Regions from separate parts of the Homo sapiens genome. Here region 2 is linked to region 1. The links come from fine-mapping of genetic effects on gene expression. Tissue or cell type: whole blood. Region 1 holds a variant in brackets; the other region holds the start of a gene. All regions are shown on one strand. Distances are from middle to middle. Region 1 holds the start of XPC-AS1 (XPC antisense RNA 1). Region 2 holds the start of TMEM43 (transmembrane protein 43).

Region 1 (11,199 bases):
AGGGGGTGCAAACTAATGAGATGGGCGTGCCTTATTAAAAATGGCTTGGCAAGGGAGGGGTTGAGCCTCATTGGAAAGTAGATTTGCACGGCTTTGGTGAGCTCTTAGCTCGGGAGGAAGAGTGAAGCCAGAGGAACTTTGCCTGCAGGAATCATTTGACTGTTCCATGTGCAGGTGTCTTGATTCTGTGATAGCTTATTAGCTTATTATAGTTGGCTTCTCTGCAGCCTTCCTTTGGGTTCACTGCCCCCTCCTGGACACTTCCCTCCCCCACATGGTGTTAACAGCAGATCAGAGCCTCAGCAGGTGTTCGCTTGGTGGTGGTAGTAAACGTGAGTGTGCCTGCGCACAGCGGCCTTTACCCCATCCTGATAGTCTGCAGCTGGAGCTCTCACAGGCTCTGGACAGCAGAGGAGAAGAAAACCTATGAAGGGGAGGAGTGGTGGAGGCAAGGCACAAAGGCTGCAGATTAGGGTTTGTAAGTGGACACATCCCCCAAAAGACAGGCAGTCCACGTTCAAGGCTGTTTGCCTAGCACAGCTTCTCTGGGCCCCCTAGGAGCTCGGCCTGCTCCAGGGTGGCTGAACCTGAGGAGGGAGCCTGCAGGGCTGCGCTCTCCACTGTCCCGCATTCCCGCAGTGGGGCTGTGGACTGAGTTACCTTTGTGTCCTGTGTTGGTTCCACAGGGATTGTGTGCACACTCTGCATTCCAGGGACACGTGGCTGAAGAAAGCAAGAGTGGTGAGGCTTGGAGAAGTACCCTACAAGGTAACTGGAGCTGGGGGGTCCCTGTGGGGAGTGGTGACACAGGCCTGTAGCTGAGCGGGAGAGCTGGGGGCAGAGAAGTGATGATGAGCCTCCCAGTCCTGCCCAGGATCCTGATCAGAAATGTCTCACTTTCCCGGCTTGAGCAGGATTCAAGGAGGAGAGAAACATTTAAATTGTCTTATTAATAAGACATTTGTAAGAAATGGATCTTCCAAAACACAAAAGAAATCTAGGCCAAAAAGTAGGCCTCAGACTCCTGTTGTGAATTCAAAGGTTCTACAGGTTGGAATTGAGTTACTGGGTCCTGGGAGGTCAGAGCCCTGCTTTATAGCAGCACGTTCTCCAGTCAGATTGCCCTTCTGTTTGGCAGTTCACTGAGCATTTTGCATGTATGTGATCTCTGTTGCCTCAAAAGCCATAGGAATTGGCATTATGATGCCCATTTTACAGATGAGAAAACTGAAGCTCAGGGCAAGTGACTTGTCCAAGTCCCCACAGTTAGTAAAATGGCAGAGCAGAGCCCAGGTGAGAATCCCAGGCTCTGCCTTAAAGCCAGTGCTCCTTTCACACTGTGCTGCGGCACTGTTAGGCTGGTTGCTCTTGAGGAACACGAACCGAGCGAGGTCCCACAGAGACTATTCACAGGACACACAGCTCCGTACGACCGGAAGTGTACAGTGGCTGATCACAGAGACCATTTACTTCTCATCAGACCCCAGGAGTCCTTGGGGGTTGCAAGACTCCGGGAAGCTGAGTGGGGAGTGGAGGGGCCTCCGCTTAGTGGGAAAGGCTGCAGGCGCTGGTCACAGTCACTGCCAGCAGCAGGCTGGAGTGGGCGATGCCCCCTGCCTGGGCCTGCAGGGTTGCTGAGGATTTTCTCTGCACCATCTCACCTGTCTTTTGTGCTGGAACCAGCATAGCAGTGTTCAGTTGAAATGTAACGTGAGCCACACATTTAAATTTTTTAGTAGCTACATTAAAAACCAAAAACAGGTGGAATTTTAACATTAAAATATATCCAGATATATCTAAAATACTATTTCAGCAGTAAGAAATATTTTAAAGTGTTGATGAGATATTTAAATCCATTTTGTTCCTAAGTCTCTCTAATCTTCTGTGTATTTGACTTTCTGTACCTTAGTTCAGACCAGCCACGTTTCAGGTGTGCAGTGGCCACACGTGACTGGTGGCTGTCATGGTAGCACAGTTCTGGAATCCCAAATCTCTCAAATTCACCCCTTGTTCTGATCCCCACCACCCCAGCTCCTGCCTCAGTATCTTTTGCTTGGGCAACAGCCACAGCCTCCTTCCCAGCCTGAATCCATTCCCCTGTCAGTCACTAGGCTCTTTCTGTGCATCTTGGCCATCCTTGTCCCACCTTGGCCAGCGCCTTTAGTCTGAGTCCCGCACCCTCCCCATGGTGCACAGTGATGTTCTGGTGCTCACTGCCTCTGCATTCCAGAGGACTTAGGCCCCAGGTCCCAGTGTTCTCCCACCTCTGTGCCCTGTGGGGTCCAGCCCTGTTCTCTTGGGCAACCCCTTGCCCCTTTAAGCCTCTGCTCAGGCGGGACCTGTTTTGAGCAGCCTTTCTTGCCTCCACTGTCCTCAGGGCTGGGCAATGGCTTGCCTCTGAGCTCCTGTTCCACCCTGTACTCATCACGCTGAGTCGTAGCTCTGTCTCTTCCCCTGCAGGAGCCTGAGCTCCTAAGAGCAAAGACTGTCCTCGCTCCATCCCTCCTTCATGACTGGGTCATGGCCTGGTCTCCAGGAGATCCCAGTGGAAGTTTACTGAACAGTGTGCTGGGTGAATGGCTTCTCAGAAAGGGACGGTTGTCAGAACTCAGAGTCCCTCTGTCCCTGAAGTGGTGACAGAGAGGGTGCGCCCAGAGATCATGGCAGGAATGGACATGAGAGCTCGCAGGCCACCCCCAACCTGGGGAATGGCTTTTCACATTTTTAAAGGGTTATAAGAATGAGAAGAATAAAGAATATGTGATGGAGGCCACGCATGACCCTTTACAGAACAAGCTTGTGGGCCCCTGCACTAGAGGAAGTCTGTATGCTGAGGCCCAGGGGCCAGCCCTCAGCCGCACGCCCATGCCTGACTCCTCTAAGAGTTACGTGACTCTGTCCTTGCCTGTCCTGCGCCCCTCTCACCACTTCACTCCCCAGGGAAGATCTTGGCCTTGGCCACTGCACGCTGTTGGGGAGCACACTGGGAGTCCTGAACTGTCAGTGCTTTCTAGGGCGTGTGAGCAGACATAGGTTATATGTTGAGACACAGGCTCTACTGATGGACAGTTACCTGAATTGTAAATCCTGGTTCTTGTCACTTACCAGCCATCAGCTCTTAAGTGACTTTGTCTCTCAGTCTCAGTCACTGCTATCAGTGATGACAGCACAGAATATAGGCTAGTGGATGAAAGTGTGGGCTCTGGCCCTTACGAGCTGTGTGACTTTAGGCAAATCATTTACCCCGTCTGTGGTGTTCATCTGTAAAATGGAAACAATAATAAGACCTACCTTGTGGGTTTGTTGAAAAAATTAAATAATAACATATAAAGCACTGAAGATAGGCTGGGCGCAGTGGCTCATGCCTGTAATTCCAGCACTTTCGGAGGCCAAGGCAGGTGGATCATTTGAGGTCAGAAGTTTGAGACCAGCCAGGCCAATATGGTGACACCCCATCTCTACCAAAAATATAAAAATTAGCTGGGCATGGTGGCGGGTACCTGTAGTCCCAGCTACTCAGGAGACAGGCACGAGAATCACTTGAATCCGGGAGGTGGAGGTTGTAGTGAGCTGAGATCACACCAGGGCACTCCAGCCTGGGCAACAGAGTGAGACTCCGTCTCAGGGGGATAAAAAAACAAAAAACACCGAGAATAGTGTCTGGGACAGAGAATGTTCCATAAATGTTAGCTAGTGCTTGTAGTAAGAAAAGGGGAGCAGCCGGGCACGGTGGCTCACGCCTGTAATCCCAGCCCTTTGGGAGGTTGAGGCGAGTGCATCACCTGAGGTCAGGAGTTCGAGACCAGCCTGGCCAACATGGTGAAACCCCCGTCTCTACTAAAAATACAAAAATTAGCCGGGCGTGGTGGCAGGCACCTGTAATCCCAGCTACTCAGGAGGCTGAGGCAGGAGAATTGCTTAAACCCAGGAGGCAGAGGTTGCAGCGAGCCAAGATTGCACCACTGTACTCCAGCCTGGGCGACAGAGCGAGACTCTGTCTCAAAAAAAAAAAAGGGAGAAAAAGCACCCCAGCTGGTAGGTGTGTTCTGAGGGTTCACCAGGTACCAGGCATGCGGCACTGAGCATGGTGCCTGGCCCGGTGCTGAGGAACTGGATGCCTTTGTTGTAAACGGTGGCCGTGTCCTCTGGTGCAGATGGTGAAAGGCTTTTCTAACCGTGCTCGGAAAGCCCGACTTGCTGAGCCCCAGCTGCGGGAAGAAAATGACCTGGGCCTGTTTGGCTACTGGCAGACAGAGGAGTATCAGCCCCCAGTGGCCGTGGACGGGAAGGTAAGGGCAGCATCAGAAGGGCTCAGGACCAGGCCGCCTTGTTCCCCTGCTGGCCAAATGCTGACTTGCTCACCCGACACAGGTGCCCCGGAACGAGTTTGGGAATGTGTACCTCTTCCTGCCCAGCATGATGCCTATTGGCTGTGTCCAGCTGAACCTGCCCAATCTACACCGCGTGGCCCGCAAGCTGGACATCGACTGTGTCCAGGCCATCACTGGCTTTGATTTCCATGGCGGCTACTCCCATCCCGTGTGCGTGAGGGGCCTTCGATGGAGGCTAAACACAGGGATGGGGAGGGGTGGCTCCAGAGATGGGGATGGAAAGCTGGCATGGGGCTGCTGGGAGTTGAGGCCTGGTGGCTCCAATTTTCAGGATGTTACACTGGATTTGCAAAGTCAGTGCTTTACCAATTCTGGCTTCCCTCCAGAGGGAACGGAGCCAATGAAACTGGCATCGTAATGCTGGATTAAAACGTTCTTCCCAGGTTTAGGGACTCACAGGCTAGTGAGCAAAAAACAGTCAGCATCTTTCCCCGGCAGCTGCCTGGTTAGTGAGCTCTGTTCCATGATGGGTGAGGCTGGATAGGGGCTTTCACCCCAGCTTTCTTCGGCAGAATCTGGGGAGGAAGAGGCAGTGCCAGCTTCCACAGGCCTGCCTTCTGCACGGAGGATGTGGGACACTGGCTGACCCGCGACATCCTTCAGGACCCCTAGTGCTCAGATGTGGCCCACTGTCTTCCACAAACTGGGGAGGGAGGAGAGGCAGAGCAGGCAGCAGGTTCGAGGGTTGACATCGCGTTGTGTCCCCACAGGACTGATGGATACATCGTCTGCGAGGAATTCAAAGACGTGCTCCTGACTGCCTGGGAAAATGAGCAGGCAGTCATTGAAAGGAAGGAGAAGGAGGTAAGCGCATATGCAGGACTGAGGGACAGCAGAAGCGGGAAGCAACACTCAGCGGGTGGCCTCTTCCTTCCCCAGGCCGCCTCCGTGTGCTCCCAGGCTCTTCCCAGCCCTCTCTGACATCATGGCAGGCACCCGAGGGAGCGAGCACTGAATACAGCAGGCTCCTGCCCACCCCGCAGACTATCACTGTCCCTGAGGAGCCTGGGTCCGGGCTCTGGGGTCTACTGCCCCTGCTGCCCACACCTGCCTCTGTCTTGAATTGCCTGTGTCCAGGTTCTGGAAGACCTCACCCACTAAAGATTTTGGAGTCAGTAACGATTAAAAAGTTATCTGTTTTTGTGGCTTTCAGGTATAGTATATCACTTTGTAAATCAGATCAATTTTTTGGAAGTGAGACTTGGTGTGAAGGAGAGGCTATATTCTAAAGTGGTGTATATATCTGTCTTTACATTCACAGTTTCCATCTTAATATTTTTCCTGAAAATGTCAGTGCTTAACACTTTTCTCCCACTTCATTTTTGCCTGCAGAAAAAGGAGAAGCGGGCTCTAGGGAACTGGAAGTTGCTGGCCAAAGGTCTGCTCATCAGGGAGAGGCTGAAGCGTCGCTACGGGCCCAAGGTCAGTGCAGGTTCTTTGCAGAGAAGACAAGCTCAGGGTCAGTTTCTTGGAGATGCAGCTCAGAAAGGCCTGGCCCAGATTCTGCCCCAGCCTCAAGTCAGGGATAGCTTTGTGTTAGGACACCTCAGTCTTCTGTCTCTAAGGCCGCTTGTTTTTACCTTGTTGGGAAAGGTGTCCCTGGAGTGAGGCCTCAGCTGGCTCTTCTGCCCCAAGCCCTGTCCCAGTGTCCCCGTTTCTACTGTCCACATGAGCAATGCCATGGGTCTGATTTGGCGCTGAACACATAGGGAGGGCCAAGTGTCCTGCATTTGGTGCACCCTTCCGCCTTCCAGTGTTCCCAGTGCCTGTGACCATGCTGCAGGCCTGCAGTGGCCCGCTCAGTACCTCTCTCACAGCACCTGCCATGTGCCAGGCCAGGCTTGGACACAGGTGTGAATTTGACATGCAGCCCTCAAGGGGGCCCCTCCCTGGGGCAGATGGACCCTAGGCCCAGTTACATGGTATAGTCAGTGCTGTGTCAGACACAGCAGAAACTGCTCTGGCATGTTTTGTTCCCTCTCTCCAACCCTCTGTGCTGCCTGTTTGCCTTTCAACATTTTTTTGTCACGCTCCTCATTCCAGTCCCTCTGGTGGAGAAAAGCCCTTCATCTGACTTTATGTTCTGACCAGCTCCTTGCCGCCTTCTCCATCCAAACCCTCCCTAGCCATCCCAGCTGGCAGGGAGTGCCGCCTCAGATCTTAGGGCTCCGAGGGCTGAACTGTGCATCTTGCCCGTTCAAGACATCATGTGCTTTGGTCCAGAAATGAGGTAGCAAATGCAAGGCACGAATCACAGGCATCCCCAGATGAGGCAGTGTGCTCCTAGAGGGCAGCTTCCTGCCCAGCCATCATCCTTGTGTTCCCCTGCACTCAGCTCGTAGCAGGTGCTCCAGTGTCTGCTTGGATGCACCCCAGGCTGGGACGGCTCAGTAAGAAGGGTCTGGGCTCTCTCCCTGCCCTGTCCCATGCCCTTGTCCTCCCAGAGTTACACAGCTTAGGGCAGGCTGGGAACTTGCTGCCTCTTCATGGGGCTTCCTGGTATCTGATTACTAACCCTCGCCTGTGTCCTCCCACCACTGCCACCTGTCCAGAGTGAGGCAGCAGCTCCCCACACAGATGCAGGAGGTGGACTCTCTTCTGATGAAGAGGAGGGGACCAGCTCTCAAGCAGAAGCGGCCAGGATACTGGCTGCCTCCTGGCCTCAAAACCGAGAAGATGAAGAAAAGCAGAAGCTGAAGGGTGGGCCCAAGAAGACCAAAAGGGAAAAGAAAGCAGCAGCTTCCCACCTGTTCCCATTTGAGCAGCTGTGAGCTGAGCGCCCACTAGAGGGGCACCCACCAGTTGCTGCTGCCCCACTACAGGCCCCACACCTGCCCTGGGCATGCCCAGCCCCTGGTGGTGGGGGCTTCTCTGCTGAGAAGGCAAACTGAGGCAGCATGCACGGAGGCGGGGTCAGGGGAGACGAGGCCAAGCTGAGGAGGTGCTGCAGGTCCCGTCTGGCTCCAGCCCTTGTCAGATTCACCCAGGGTGAAGCCTTCAAAGCTTTTTGCTACCAAAGCCCACTCACCCTTTGAGCTACAGAACACTTTGCTAGGAGATACTCTTCTGCCTCCTAGACCTGTTCTTTCCATCTTTAGAAACATCAGTTTTTGTATGGAAGCCACCGGGAGATTTCTGGATGGTGGTGCATCCGTGAATGCGCTGATCGTTTCTTCCAGTTAGAGTCTTCATCTGTCCGACAAGTTCACTCGCCTCGGTTGCGGACCTAGGACCATTTCTCTGCAGGCCACTTACCTTCCCCTGAGTCAGGCTTACTAATGCTGCCCTCACTGCCTCTTTGCAGTAGGGGAGAGAGCAGAGAAGTACAGGTCATCTGCTGGGATCTAGTTTTCCAAGTAACATTTTGTGGTGACAGAAGCCTAAAAAA[A/G]GCTAAAATCAGGAAAGAAAAGGAAAAATACGAATTGAAAATTAAGGAAATGTTAGTAAAATAGATGAGTGTTAAACTAGATTGTATTCATTACTAGATAAAATGTATAAAGCTCTCTGTACTAAGGAGAAATGACTTTTATAACATTTTGAGAAAATAATAAAGCATTTATCTAAAGATTTGGCTCTATATTTTCTTTCAGATTTTTTTTTTTTTAAGGGGTCTTACTGTCTTGCGCAGGCTGGACTCCTGGGCTTGAGTGGTCTTCCTGAGGGCTTTGCCTCAGCTGGCCCTCACAACCACCGTGTGTGGTGGAAAGGCATTGTTCGGGAAACAGTCCCAGCTCCTCAGGACTGCAGGCACCCACACACCACTGCCGTGCCCAGCTTCTTTCAGATTTAAGTCGGTAATAACACCCAGGTGACAGAGCAATGTATTCATATGTTGAGACAGCATGAAAGAGTCCATTTTGTTTTCATGGAGGCTGGAAATTCATTACATATGGAATTCTTCTGTATTTAGTGAAGAGATGTTAATCTTTGAGAGGAGCCATTAAAAATCGGAGTCACTTTTATCCAAGGGAAACAAACAAAACACTTGAGTTATGACTCATATGTGGCAAGAGGCTGGCTGGAACCTCTTGTTGAGAAACAGACTGGGGTTGCTATGGAAACTGGTCTCACACTTCCTCACCAGAGCTCGGCCCTCCTATAGAGGCAACTTGTTTTCTGTTATTTTTTTTTTTAAATTATTTTTTGAGACAGGGAGGGTTCCACTCTTGCCCAGGCTGGGGTGCAGTGGTGTGATCCCAGCTAGTGGTGTGATCCCAGCTGACTGCAGCCTCAAGCAATCCTCTCAGCCTCCTGAGTAGCTGGGACCATGGGTATGCACCACCACGCTTGTCTTTCTGGGGTTTTGAGATGATGGCATTGCCATGTCTCTGCAGAAATAACTTCTTCAGGCATATGTCAGCTACAAGGAGGCATTATTTAAATGAAACAGTAGGTTCTGAGAAACAGAAGAGTAGGTTTGGGAAAGTTCTCACTCACGTGCTTGTAAAAAATAAAGCAAACTGCTAGCATCAGAGTGGGCAGTTAGCAGCCGCCTTTCAGAACAGGAAGCAAAATGAATGAAAAATTAATGCCTCATGTGTCAGGCATTCTATGGGCTTTGTCTCATTTGGCCCTCACAACAACTTTGTGAGGTGGACAAGTGTTATTCCCATTGTACTGATGAGGGAACAGACTCAAATCGTTGATTTACCCAACATCACAGCCAGTATGTAGCAATCTTTGGCTCAGAACTCAGGTCTCCCGTGTCAACTCAGGATGCCTCTGGCAGTGGAGCACACTGCTGCCCCTTCCACTTTTTCTAGCACATTCTGAAGATGCATGAAGCCTGAGTCATTCACTTTAAATCAAGCCAAAACAAAGTGGGCTTCAGTGTGGACTTCTGAGTGCTAGATACTGAGTTGCCCTTAAAAAAAAATTAACTTATTTTAAGCACTGAAAGCTCAGATTTCCACAAAATTCAGTTCTCAATAAATCCTATGGCTGAATTCTTTACAGACATTTTGGAAAGAATGCCAAAAAAAAAAAATCTGAAACTAAAAATAGGATGTTTGTTAAAGTCCCACACCAGAAGATAATTTAGAAATTTATTACAAAACTTTTAATAAAAAATACAATGATATTACAAATTTGGTTTTCCAAAGCTTTCAAATTTTTCTTAACATTATCTTTCGTTTTAAGAACACTTTTGAAGTCGGCAGTTATTTAAAATCCTTACTAGAAAAAAACCAAAGCCCAAGGATTTTGCATTTAGTCATCATCTAGGTATACAGCGTGTTTTCCGAAAGCATCCTTTAAGAGTTTGGAGATTTGATGAAATTGCTCATGTAATAAGCAGTTAGTGAATACTATTGAATCCTAAACCCAGATAAGTCATCTTGGGCTGGCTGTGTTTTTCATGTGAAGAAACTCATTTATAGCACAGGCACCCCAGGCCAATAGAGATGATTACAGATCTCTGGTTTCAGAAGTTCTGACCCCTTATTCAGCTACCAAATACTTAATTGCTAAAGGAATTACTCCCAGCAGGCACAAAACGGTTTCTGAATATGACAGAAAAGGTACACAAAGAATCATTTAAGACATCCTGGTTACAACATACTTTATCTTTAAAAGGGTGTGAGAGTAGTTGGGGAACTTAGAAATTCTGTGACTTAGGTGTGGGTGGATCTTATTTAGGAAGACTAAAGCTATGGACACAACACGTGAAAGAACCACTCAGAAGCAGCCCTAGGAAGCCCAGGTGCCCACATCGAAAGCACTCCCAGGTGAAAGCAGCCAGGCAGGCGTGGGCATTGTACAACCAGCCTCAGGCCTCAGTTCTTGATTGTGGTTGACGGGGCGTCACCATGAAGGAGCCCATTTAGTATAAAGCTTCCAACCTTTTCTCTTAATCGTTTCTTTAATCTTTTAAACCATCTTCAAGTGCATAGGGGAGTTTCCGATGCCAGAGGATGAAAGCAAGTGCTTTCTCCACCCTCTCCTCCCAGAGTGAAAACAAATCCTTTTGCTGATACTTGTTTCAAAAGCATCCATTGTAAAGCTTCTCAGTGACACAAAATACTGAGAGGTAACTTTTTATCAATCAAACCACATACCCCAATTTAACACCTTTCAGTGCTCTGAATTCAACTGACAGACTAAAGGGTGTTTCCTGTAACAGTCTGAAATATTAAGTGTTTTTTTTGTTTTGTTTTTAAATCTTATTTCAGAAAACTTCCTCTTGGGGTAGGAAAGTACACATGAAGCAGCAAAGTAACGAAGAAAAACTTAAATAGGGCCTTCAGAGATCCCACACACTACAAAGATTCTGCCAAGCCATAAGATAAGTGTGAAGCCCAGTATATGTCCAGCTTTTCTCCTCAGGACATCTTCAGTGTTTCTTCTCTTTTAAACACCACATCAGGTTCTAGCCACAGACTTGTGTTTTGGGTGTGCCTGCTTTGAGGGGTCCATGCCCAGTGTGTCTGCTGGTGACCCAGGACTCAGCAGTAATGACTAACGGCCGCCCTTCAGGATCACAGATGTGCTTGGTGGTGGTGGCAAAGCATGGCACTTGTGTGCAGTGATGAGAAGCAGCACACGGCAAGGCTGAGCCCTTTATCAGCAGGCCTCCGTAGAGCGTGTCTGCGTTGTCAGCTGCCAATGGGCTGAGTGGCTGGCCGTACCCACTCAGTCCAAGAGAGGAAGGAAACAGCAGGAGAAGCTGTCAGCTTGCCATTCATGAGCTGCTGCTGCCCACCAAAGCTGCTTACTGGCAAGAAGAGATGTGGGGAAGACATGAGCTGGTGAACACCAACCTGGTGCACATGCTGCCAAGTCTGGCCCCTGAAGAGGAGAGGGAGTGCAG
Region 2 (11,539 bases), 22 kb after region 1:
GGCGCCAATGATGTGCACCAGCCTTCCTTCATTCTCCGGAGCCACACTGTGGATGCTGTCGGGAGACACCACAAGCGAGAGCCCCTCAGCCAATGAGGTTGCCGTCTTCAATGCGCGGCCCTGGGAGCAAAGGGGAGTGGGGATTTCAACAGCTCAGGGGTGGCTCAGCATGACTGTGCTTGTTGCAAAGTATTAGGGTAGGATGGGGCCTCCGGGAGCGCTGAGACCCATCTCCCCACCGTACAGTTGGAAAACTGAGGTCTAGCAAGTGGAGAGTAAGGACTGGAACCCAGATTCCTGCTTTCCCAGGGAGACTTCTTCCTACTGCCCCATTGGTTCCCACTAGCCCCCACCAATCTTAGCACTGCCCCAGTGGTGGGAACAGCTGATGTTTCTGCCTGCCTGTCCCTTTCTCCCCATTTTTCTCTGCCTTCTTTTTTTTAATTTTATTTTTATGTTTAAGTTTTTTGTAGAAATGGGGTCTTGCTATGTTGCCCAGGCTGCTTTCGAACTTCTGACCTCAAGCGATCCTGCCTCCTTGGCCTCCCAAAGTGCTGGGGTTACAGGCTTGAGCCTCCATGCCTGGCTCTCCTCTCTCCTACTCAGCCCATGTGGTTTACCTGAGTCTATCTGAACCCTGGTCAGATTATGGGACCCAGACCTTGCCAGTCAGAACATGTGAGTGCGCCCTGGACACGGAGACTGATTCAGAGGACGGAGAGCCAAGCCAGGACACTGAGAGATGGCCCTGTAACTGCTGCTAAATTGATTTAGAAATATACTGTTGCATCATGAGGCCCTATTAAAAAAAAGGAGAAAAAGAAAGAGAGAGGGAGAGAAAGAAAGAAACAAACAAACAAGAAAGAGAGAAAGAGAGAGACAAAGGAAGGAAGGAAGAAAGGAACAAAGGAAGGGAGGGAGGGAGGGAGGGGAAAGAAAGGAAAAGAAAGAAAGGAAGAGAAACAGATGGTTTTTCTCTTCCCTGGGCTAAGTGGTTGGATGTAGGCCAGTTGCTGGGGCCACATTTGCCATCACAGATGAAGTGCCTGCCCAAGAAAAACACCATAATAGAGAAAAACAGGCAAAAGATGAAGAAATGGAGATTCCTGGTGACCCAGCATGAACACCTGGATCCAACTACGCCTGAGGCAGGTGCTAACCCCTGGATATTCAGGTGTGTGAACTGATCTACTCCCCTTCCTGCTCACATCAGCTGTGGGATGGATCACAATGGAAAGAACTGTGATTAACTCAGTATCCTCCTTTCTCTTTTTAAAATCTAGGCCCTTGATTACCAAATCCAGCCTCCGGGTTCATCGCCTTTGCTCTCTGACATGGTGGGGACTCTCACTCTGCACAGGAAGACCCCAGACATTTTACCTCATTGGTGAAAATTAGGTAGAAGGAGAGCAGGAAGGCCATGAGCCCCACAAACATCCCACCCGAGGTCTCGCTCAGCCGTTCCAGGAAGCCTGGCTGGGAGCTGGTTTTAACTTTGACATGTTCTCTCCGGGTACTGGTACTGGAATACTGAAGAAAAAGAAACAGTAACAGAATGAAAACTAGTTTTTAAAAATAAATTAAATTTGCTATTTATTTATACTCAATTTTTTTTTTTTTTTTTTTTTTTTTTTAGTTTTAACTGTATGTGGTAAAAACACACAGATATTCAATGTACAGTTTGGCAGGTTTCCACAAACGTATATTCCATCTGACCAACATCTAAAGCAAGGTACAAAATATTTCCATCACCCCAAAAAGTTTCTTTGTGCCCCTTTCCTGCCAATTCTCCCCCTCTCCACCAACCAGAGGTAACTGGTGGGGATGGGGAGAATCTGAATTTGAATTTCTCCTACCGTAGATTAGTTTGTTTCTTCTACAACTTGAGAAAAATGGAATCAGGGCACCAACTCCTTTCTGCCCAGCTTCTTGGACTCAGAGCACTGCTTTTGCAATTCATTCATGTTGTGGTGTTTATCAGGAATTTGTTCCTTTTCATGGCTGAGTAGTATTCCATTTATGACTATACCACAGTGTGCTGAATCATTCGTCAGTGGATGGGTATCTTGACAGCTTCCAGGTTTTGGCTGTTATGAATAATGCTGCTGTGAATATTCATACATGAACCTTTATGCAGACATGTGCTTTCATTTCCCGTAGGAATATACCTAGGAGTACAACTGCTGGCTCGTGAAGAAGATGTACGTTTAACTTTTTATGAAACTGCCAAGCTATTTTACAAAGAGGTTATTAGAGATGTATTTTTAATTAAATTCAGCAAACAGTGGCTGAGCTTTCTGAGGGCAGTGCTAGCCCTTGTGGGGTCAGAAGTAGACAGTCTTAGGGCAGTGAGGTCACAACCATAAACAATACTAGAAGGTCACACAGAGGGTCCTGTGATGGGGGTGGACTTGGTGCTCAAGGAGTGACCCCTTCCACCTGGGGTATCAAGGAGGCTCCCTTGAGTGGAATCTTAGAGGCAGATCTTAGGGGAAGAGCATCCCTAAAGGGAGAACCGTATCAGCAGTGATGAGGAAGTAGGAAGTGGTTCTGGGGGAGCAGCTGCCTGTCTGCTTTGGCTGGGTGGGAGCAGTGGAGGAAGAAAGGGCTTGGAGGTAGGCATTTCTGGGCAGGTTCACAGTGGGCCTCAAACTCAAGGGTGAGTGGATCAGGCTTTGGTCAATAACAGAGGCATGATTTGGGGTGCATCCACTGCTGATCAAAAGTGTCATCGTCTAGGGCAGGATTCTGGAGCCAGAAGAACTGGGTTTGCATTTATGCTCTGCCACATACCAGCTACGGGGTCTTGGGCAAGCAACTTCACCACTTTGTGCCTTCCATTTCCTCTGTGCATAGGGTTGTGGTGAGAACCAAAGAACACAGTTATTGGGTAGCTCAGGGCCTAGGGCGTGGTAAGCACTGGACACGTGTTAGCTAGTAGAAATGTTACCAGATTTCCCTACAACTGATACTGGGCTGGCACCAGGCTGGGGGTGAGCTGACAAAAGTCACAAAGATGTAAAGTGGGGCCCAGCTAAGACAGGCCCCATCCTGGTATTGGGGGCCAGAGGAGTGATTTGACTCAGAATCTCTGCTTGAACAAAGCTGATGTCGCATTCTGATTGTCTTTGAGTACCACCAGCCAAGGCCTCCAGTGACCAGATGTCCATGAATCCAGAAGTCGTCTTGACTTTCCATGCCATTTGGAAACATTAGGTGAGTGAATCACCACATAGGGGCAGGTGACCATCACAATGATGACAATGGCAAACACACCGGGTCTATCACAGGCCAGCCCACAGGCAAGCCCAAAGAGCGGGATGTCATAACGACCCCATTTCACCGATAAGAAAATCGGGCTCAGGGTTACGTCATCTTCCCAGATCACACAGCTTCTAAGAGGAAGAGTTAGGATTCAAATCCGGGCAGACTGGAGGCTACTCTCCCATTACTCATTCCAGTCTGTGCTCCCCATCTCTTGGGCTACAATGTGAGCTGAATGTTGGGAGCCAGCTGCAGGCAGCAATAGGAAAATAAGGCGTGTCTTCCTCTTGGGCCTCCCCTCAGCCAGCATCAAGATAAGGGGCTCAAAGACGGCCTTGGAGGGAAGGAAGAGAGGTACAGGAGGGTGCCCCTCAGGCTAGGGGAGGGGTGAGGTGGGCAGTGACATGACAAACCCAGCCCACATTCTGAACCAAAATTCCCAGTAAACATGGAGGATCATAAAGGATCTATATATCCACACATATTTATATATACATATAGTATGTATTACATGTATACACACATTATATAAACACACACACACACGCACACACAGACGGACATCCCCAGTGACACATCCCCTCCCAGTCCTAGCACTCAGGACTTAGAAGAAATGAGCAATGAGTGGTGGGAACAGAGGCTGACACATAGGCCCTGGAAATGGACAGAACTGGATTTGATGCCTAGGTTCACCAATCGCTTGCTGTGTAAGCCTGGGTAAATTGCTCTACCTCTCTGATTCTGTTTACTCACTTATAAAGTGGAGAGGGGAATAGTACCTTCACCACAGGTACTGCTGCTGCTGTACTGATTGAGAATTTTGTTGCCTCCCTGCTCCATCCCGCTATCTTCTTCCTCACCCAGCCTAGTGGCTGCTGTAAATGTGTACTCAGCTACTGGATGAATCAAAAAATGCTTGGCAGCAGAGAATACTCAAATGCATGTATATTCCTTGGTGAGGGGTCAGGTCTCAATGTACCCAAGATGATCTCTATCCACTGGGACCATTTGTGCTACCCTGCAAGGACAGGCTTGTTTTCAAGTATTAAGTACCTACCACACATCAGGCACTGTGCTAAGCAGTCTCCCTTAAATATCACAGTAACTGATCCATGAGGCTACATAAACCTGGAGAGATGAAAGCCACACAGCTACTGGGTGGAAGAATCTGGATTGCCCCCAGGTCTCCCTAACTCCAAAGCCTGCCCTTTTCAGCATATTTCCGTGTCACAGCATGCCAAGCCGGCCACGAGAGCTTGGGCAAGTGCCTTCCCCTGCTAGGGAAGTTCCCCATCTGTAAAATATGGTGGTGGTAGTGATGGGAGCAGACAAAGAGTCCACATACTACAGACAGGCTGGTCTCCTGACTGCCCTCTCGCCTGGCCGAGCCTGAGTCTCTCCGAATACCTCTGAGGCTTTTCTAGGTACAACATTCAAGGCTTCTAACCCTCCTGTGGGCCCGAAATGTCCTGGGAGTGTGGATGATACTAACCCGAGACAAAGTGTACTAGGGCTGTGGGTGATGCACACCCTGGCCTCTCAAGGGGTGTGGGAGGCAGAGAGGACGCTTGGGGACAGAGGCGGTGTCTGGAAATAGGGTGTGACAGGCAAGGGGAGAGCTGCTAGGACACTCTACCAAAGCAGGAGGGAGGGTGTGTCTGGGGCTGGCTGGGCTCCTAAGCGGGCCCTAGAAGCACTTTCACAGAGGAGGGGAGAGGTGAGTCACCAGCTTCTCCCACACCCAGCGCCCTGGTAGGAGGCGCTGCTTGTTGAATGAATGTTGGGCTTAAATAGTTTCCCGAGAAAGGCTAGTTGCAGGGAGAAGAGGCCTTGAGGGAACAGCCCTCAGCCAGGCCTCCTCCAACCAAATCCTTGCTAGGGGGAGGAGGGGCCCCGACAGTAGAGAAATGCTCCCTCTCCCCCAACTCCTTCGCTCCCAGCCCAGCCTAAGCTTTTTGGAGCATCACAGACTCGGTTTACAGAGACTCCCTAGGGCGGAGAGCTCTCTGCCCGCCTGGACAGCCCTGTCTGTCCATTGCTGGACAGCTCCACTTGGGCTGGATCGCCTTCCTCCCTCCCAAGGGACTGGCGCCCTCTCTGAGGTCGCGTCCAGCTCTCATAATGCGCAAGTTTCAGGGCCCCAAGGTACAGGAGGGAACTGGGAATGCAAGGAGGGGCCGCGGAGAGGCGTACAAGCAGATCCCAGTACGGGAGCAACACCTCCGAGTCCGCCTCCGCACGAACGCCGAGGACGAGGCGAGCCAAGGAACACGGACAAAAGAAGCCTGGACAGGCCGCGAGATGAGCAGAGGGATGAGCTGGCGAAGGCACAGACACGGCGAGCAGAGGGAGATGCGGGCCTAGCCGCACGGAGGAGCTCCAGGCGGCGAAATGGACCTAGAGGACCCCGGGGAAAAGCCCCAGGGCGACGGGGAAGCCTGGGTGTGGCCCGGCTGGCCCGGGGATACTCACATTCGCGGCCATGGTGGGACCCGGCTCGCTGCCGCCGCCTCGCGCTGTTCAGCTAGGAAGTGGGCTGACGACTGGAGCGTGGTGTCCAGCGGCCTCTTGCCAGCCCCAGCTTCGAAAATCCGCGTGGACTCCAGGGCCAAGCGGGACTTACTGCAGTTACCTCCCCCTGTGCCCAGTGTTTCTGCGCATGCGCGCGGCGAGACGTCCTGGAAACTATACGGTCCGGGACATTGCAGTACCTCATTGATGCGCCTGCGCACTGCAAAGCTTTCGGGGAAATGTAGTTTCTACTGCCTGGAGAGCTGTCGAGGAGCGCGCGACCTGCTGGGAAATGTAGTTTCCGGCTGAGGTTGGCCTGGCCGCGGTTGCGAGGGCGCCGAGGCAGGCGCGCGGCGGGCAGGCCTGGGAGGGGGCGGGTCCGCGCGGGCTTCGGAGGAGCCCGCCCTGCCAGAGGAGAGGGAGGTCACGGCGTAAAGGTGCAGCTGCCGCCACCGCCGCTTCTGCAAGGTCTCAGGGACGGGCTGCAGCCATGTCCTATTGCCGGCAGGAAGGTAGGGAGGGCGGGCTGCCACGGAGACCGGCCTACGAGGGCCTGCGGGAGACACGCGGGCCCCGGCGCCCCGCGACCACGCCGGGCGCGGGCCACCTGAGGCGCGGCCCAGGTGCCCACCCTGGGACACTCGGAGGCGGGCCGGCTGGGGGGTCGCTACTCCTGTTTTGCGGATGAGAAAACCGAAGCTCTGGGGGGAACGGGGCTGGTCCAAGGTCACAGTGAAGCCCGAACCCTGACCTCAGAGGGGCCTGTGCGTAGGAAGTCGTAAACTAGGTCCGGTTGGGGCACGGGAAGTGCCGAGCACGTTGCGTGTGGCTCGAAACTGGGAATGTATGGTGGTTAATTATCACTACCGCTCCTGCCATACCCCACGTGTTTACATTTTGCACGCGCCTTTAAAAGGCGCGTCCCGAAAAGTTGCCACTCGGGGTAGCGTGTGCTGTGCTGGAGTGCTAGGAGTTCCACTAACGGGAATGTTTTTGAGCCCCCTGCTACCTGTCAGGCACTGTTCAAGGAAACTTGCCTGGCTTGTCTCACAGATCTCGCTGCGACCTTTGTAAGTCAGGCTCTGTTGTTGGTCACATTTTACTGAAGAGTAAAGTTAGACACAGGAGACATGGCTAAAGCCACTCAGCCAGCAAATCGTGGAGCTGGGGTTTGAGCCTGGGCATTGTGACCCCAGAAGAGCCTTATCCAATCTAGTGCCCAGTGGATTGCAGGGAGAACCCTGCCTACCTCCCACCCCAAAGTTGAGCTCCGACCACCTACTGCTTCCTTGATGTTACTCTACCCAAGAGCTCAGAAGTACCCGAGCCACAGGTCGGAGGGCCTCCCCACACACTGCCACAAACTGGCTCCTTGGCCCTGAGCTCCCACCTAACCCCTCCAGGCCCTGGTATCCAGTGTTGTAAAATGAGATGTTGGGCTTCATTGATACGGCAAATACTCATGAAGCACCTTCTCTGCGCCAGAGAAGGGGGATGGATGGTTATAAAACTACAGAGAGAGTTGGAAGTCCCCCAGAAATTCTTTGGTGAATACTCCAGCTCCGTCAGTTAATTCAAGCAATCTGAAGCCCAGAGAAGGAGGTGGCCTACCTGTAGTTACACATCCAGTTAGGAGACTAGCTCAGCCTAAAATTCTGAGCCTTTTCCCTGGTGGCGCTGTCTGCTTCTAGAACCTCTCCTCCTCTGGGTCGTAAAGCCATAAGACTCACTCTTTAATGAGTACTATTATATTTCCGCTGATTACTACTTAATGTGTGCCATAAGCAAAAGTCCTCTGCCCTCACCACTCTTGTTTTTAATTTCGAGTCTTTCTCTAATTTACTTCATTTAGCAAATAATTTTTGAGCCTTTGGGTATAATGAGGCTGTGCTGATAAACAAGACCCTCCTCTTTGAGGATTTACAGGAGGCAGTTTTCTCTGGAAAGGGGAGGCTAGGTCCATCTGCCTCCAAAACATGGAGCCCTATCTTTTCCTGCTTCAAAGATCTCTCTTAGTTCGGAGAGGAGTGAGAATTGAAAGCACTCACTTATAGGCCTTCCTTAGTATTTATCTTGTGCATACCACTGTCCCCGTAAGAAGTCCCTAACTTCCCCCCCTCCGCCCCCCACTGATCCTTTATGCTTCCCATAGGATTTTTAAAAAATGATCCCAAACTGCTTACTGTATCAGAGCTTATGTGATCTGGCCCTGTCTGCCTTTCCAGCCTGGTCTCTTCCCACCCTTTTGCTGCCCAGCCTCTAGCCTCTTGGCTATTCCCTTGGTTTGGTATATCCTGCCTTCAGCTCTTCCGTGGCTGACTCCTCATCCTTTAACATTTAGCTCCAATATCACCTCCTGACCCTTTGTGTCTTTCACATCCTGAACTGTCTGAAATGACCTTTTTTATTTTTTGCCATCTTACTTCCTGCCTGTCTTCTCGCACTAAGCTGAGAGCATCAGATGGGCTGTGGAATCCCCAGCATCTAGCACAGGGCTTGGTGTACAATGGGTGCCCACATCTTTATTGAATCATGCATTTACCTGCCCTCTGTTCTGAGTGAATCACTTGCCTGTACAAGTTTATTTCAGGGGTCCACCTGCTACCCAGCCTTCAGGTTAAACTCGTTGGTTTGGCATTCAAGGGCTCTCAGCCTCGCACCTGGGCCTTGGGCTAGCCACACTTCTCCTGTGTCAGCACCATAGTGTTTCTTTCTTAGTTTCCTCTTTCTAATGCAGAGCCTGCCAACTCCTGTTCAGTCAACAATTATAGAGCACACGTGATGTGCCAGCCATTGGGCATATAGTGGTGAGCAAGGTGACACATTCTCTGCCCTCCTGGCATGGTGGAACAGATTGCCATTAAAACATCACCAGACAAATGCATGATTACAGACTGTCATAGGTGACATGAAGGAAAAGCCCAGCATGCTATGATCGTTTAGTGAAAGGCTCTATGGGGTCTGAGAAGGCTTCCTGAGGCTTCAGACATCCTTTTAAATGCCACTTTCTTAAGAAAACCTTTTGCAATCCTAAACACGTGTGAGCGAACACTACTTAAAACCCTCCTTTTGCCCTCCAGGCTTTGCCCAGGATGGTTCCTTCTGGAATGTCTATTCCCCTCCTTCCCTCCCTGAAGCTCTTTGTCAGGGACAAAGGTAGGATCCCTCCCCTTCCGTCTTCTCCACTGGATGCCTGTGTCGTATTCATCTGTGACCACCAGGTACTACCACAGAGCTGGAGCTGAGGAAGGTTTGTTGAGCTAAACTTCTAACACTTGCATTCTTCTTAACACTCTGTCTGAAAGCCATTTGTGTATTCTTCACAGACACTTGATTCTGTATGGGGGAGTTGTATCTTTCAAAGGGGTTAGATTCTAAACATGAAAGTCCTTAGCAGTCAGATTTATCAAACTCTTAGAAACCCCTTACCTCACTCAAAATACACCACAGGCACCACTCCCTCTGGCTTTAGATCTCTTTCTTGGGTTGAGCTTCAGAAAGTAGTGGTTGGAATTGTATCACAGGTGTATTGAATCAACTTAGCCAAAAACGAAAGAAAATAAGTCCTTAGTGCAGGTTGCCATTCTCAAACATGACCCTGGGGAGTCAGCATCCATGGGAGACAATAAACTGCTTCCTCTGCAGGACACAGGGGCATTCCTTCTGGGGTGGATGAGCTGAGAGATTCTGGTGTATAAAGATCCTCCCCTTTCATGGGGGAAATCAAACTACTCATCCAAGGGATTTTTTGGTCTCACTCACTTAATGGTGATAACCATTCTGTCTTCCTGCTTTCTGCTGGGACTGGGTGACAGAGCAGGAGTAGCGTCATCTCGGACAAACACTGGCACATTAAGTTCCAGCTCCCTTTCTAGCCTCATGCATTTCAAGGAAGTCACTTCTCTTCTAACTACAAGCAGCCAGAAAGAGCAGACAGTAAAACACAGACAAGACAGCTGGGACACAGAGGGAGGTGGGGGGAAAGTCTCTTGGGTGACTGCCAAACTTCACCCTCATACAATGGGCCCCAGTAAAACTGTGGGCCTTAATAAGCACATTCCTTTCCCTTCAGGTGTACTAAGATAGGGAAGCTAAAAGCAGTCTTGGGGGGATATGCCTGCAGCTGCAGAAAGATGTATGGAAACAGACACACCAGTCTGCCTCCCAGATAAGCACAACAAAGAGACACAGAAGCAGTCCAAGCCACTGATAAGCTCTCCCACCCTGAATCCTTAAAAACTCTTAGTCTGTAAGAGAGTGTGGCTCTGACCTAACTCAGCCAGCAGCCCCTCTCAGGTTTGTTTAAAATAAACCTGTCCCTGTTGACTGAAAAGCCACCCTTCGTGTTTCTCTCCTCTTTAATTCTTACACTTGGGTCTTCAAGCCCTAATCCAGAGTTGTTTCTCCATTCATTTTTTTCAACAAATATTGAACACCCACTTTGTCCTTGGTACTATTCTGGGCTCTCAGGATACTGCAATGAACAGAATAGACAAAAATCACTGCCTCTGAGGAGCTGACATTCCAGTGGGGGCATCAAGTGGTAAACATACATAGTATGTTGGGTGACGAAAAGCACTTTGGAGAAAGATAAAGCGGGATAAGGGAGATGGGCAGTGGTCAGGGACGGTGGCATCTGAGCAGGAGGTGAAAGCAGGGAGAAATCGCTGTGAGGGTACCTGAGGGAAGGGAAGGTGCTCCTGGAGGACAGAACACCCTGTGCAAAGGCCAGAGGTAGGCATGTGCTCAGCACATTCAAGTAAAAGCAGAGGCCAGCGTGGCTGGAGTGCAGGGAGTGATGGTGGGAGATGGGGTCGAAGAGGTGAGGGATGCAGCTCTTTCTGGATGTATTTGAAGATCGAGCCATTCCAATTTGCTGTTGGAGATGTGAGAGAAAGACGGGTTGGGGTGGCTCTACCGAGAGTAAAACTAAACAGCTGGGGGTGGAAGGTGTCTTTGTATCTGACTGCTCACTCAGTTCTGTTCTCAGCCCCACCCTGAAGTCCTGCACTCAGAGTAACCCCTCGGGCCTCCAGTTCCCCACTCTGACCAAGGTTCTGGGGTGGGGACTGAGTTGATTCTGGATGACCTCCTCCTTGTGCACTTTGAGTTCAGCTTTCTTCACTGGTTAAGTCAGAGAGCACTCGACCATCAGCTCTCCCATTTCCAAAACATTATTGACATCTCTGAGCCTGTGATTGTCTCTTTTCCTGGCCATGCTATCCTTGATGCCCTTTAAAAATTGCTGTCAAGTGGGATTCCAGCTGACAGCAGAAACTCATTTCACCTCCCCAACCACGTGAGGTAGGTAGGTGGAGCTGGTGGTAAGGCCTGGTTTCTGAGGCCCAGATGGTACCTGAGCTCATACAGTGGGAAGTGCTTAAGCCCAGATTTGAACTCCAGTTCTCAGACTCTCTGTGATATTGAAATATTGAAGCCACTGTGCACCAGAGGGTTTAAGGTAGTTTTCCACCTCCTTCAGAACATGCATATTCAACTGCTTTTAAAGCTTATCTTAGAAATAAAAACACAAGCACTTTTAAATTTTATTTCTCTAGAGAAATTGCTGACAAATGTCATGAGAACTACTAGTCTAGCTGATTGTCCCACTAGTTGGCATCTTACGACTAGTCTGACCAGTCCTTTCTTTCACAGTTAGGTCTGTTAGGAATAGGTAAGCCTTGTCCTTGCATCAGTCCTTGAATCGACTTTTAAAAGTTCCAGAAAGCAAAGGCCCTCTAGGACAGGCATACAATGGACAGTT

The links. PIP is the estimated chance that this variant, and not a neighbour inherited with it, causes the effect.
Region 2: it holds the start of TMEM43, and the variant in region 1 is fine-mapped to the expression of TMEM43 in whole blood (TOPMed, PIP above 0.99).

What each region holds. Positions count from the first base shown.
Region 1 is chr3:14,141,904-14,153,102 of GRCh38, reverse strand. TMEM43 (transmembrane protein 43) reads right to left here. Exons shown (of 12, transcript NM_024334.3): 12 at 9,423-11,199. XPC (XPC complex subunit, DNA damage recognition and repair factor) reads left to right here. Exons shown (of 16, transcript NM_004628.5): 11 at 687-768; 12 at 4,155-4,289; 13 at 4,372-4,541; 14 at 5,102-5,195; 15 at 5,724-5,813; 16 at 6,944-7,956. The coding sequence ends at 7,162. XPC-AS1 (XPC antisense RNA 1) reads right to left here and starts at 3,541. Exons shown (of 2, transcript XR_001740603.2): 1 at 3,501-3,541; 2 at 1-3,261. RefSeq lists enhancers at 1,748-2,248, 3,866-4,550, 8,214-8,323, 8,669-9,356 and a silencer at 8,980-9,274. The variant A/G (reference allele first, on the strand shown) is at 7,780.
Region 2 is chr3:14,119,403-14,130,941 of GRCh38, reverse strand. It overlaps TMEM43 (transmembrane protein 43), which reads right to left and starts at 5,890. Exons shown (of 12, transcript NM_024334.3): 1 at 5,737-5,890; 2 at 1,381-1,530; 3 at 1-120. The coding sequence starts at 5,748. CHCHD4 (coiled-coil-helix-coiled-coil-helix domain containing 4) reads left to right here and starts at 6,072. Exons shown (of 3, transcript NM_001098502.2): 1 at 6,072-6,287. The coding sequence starts at 6,266. RefSeq lists enhancers at 5,256-5,545, 4,978-5,712, 5,646-5,845, 5,713-6,447, 7,216-7,315 and 2 more and silencers at 6,036-6,595, 6,606-6,655.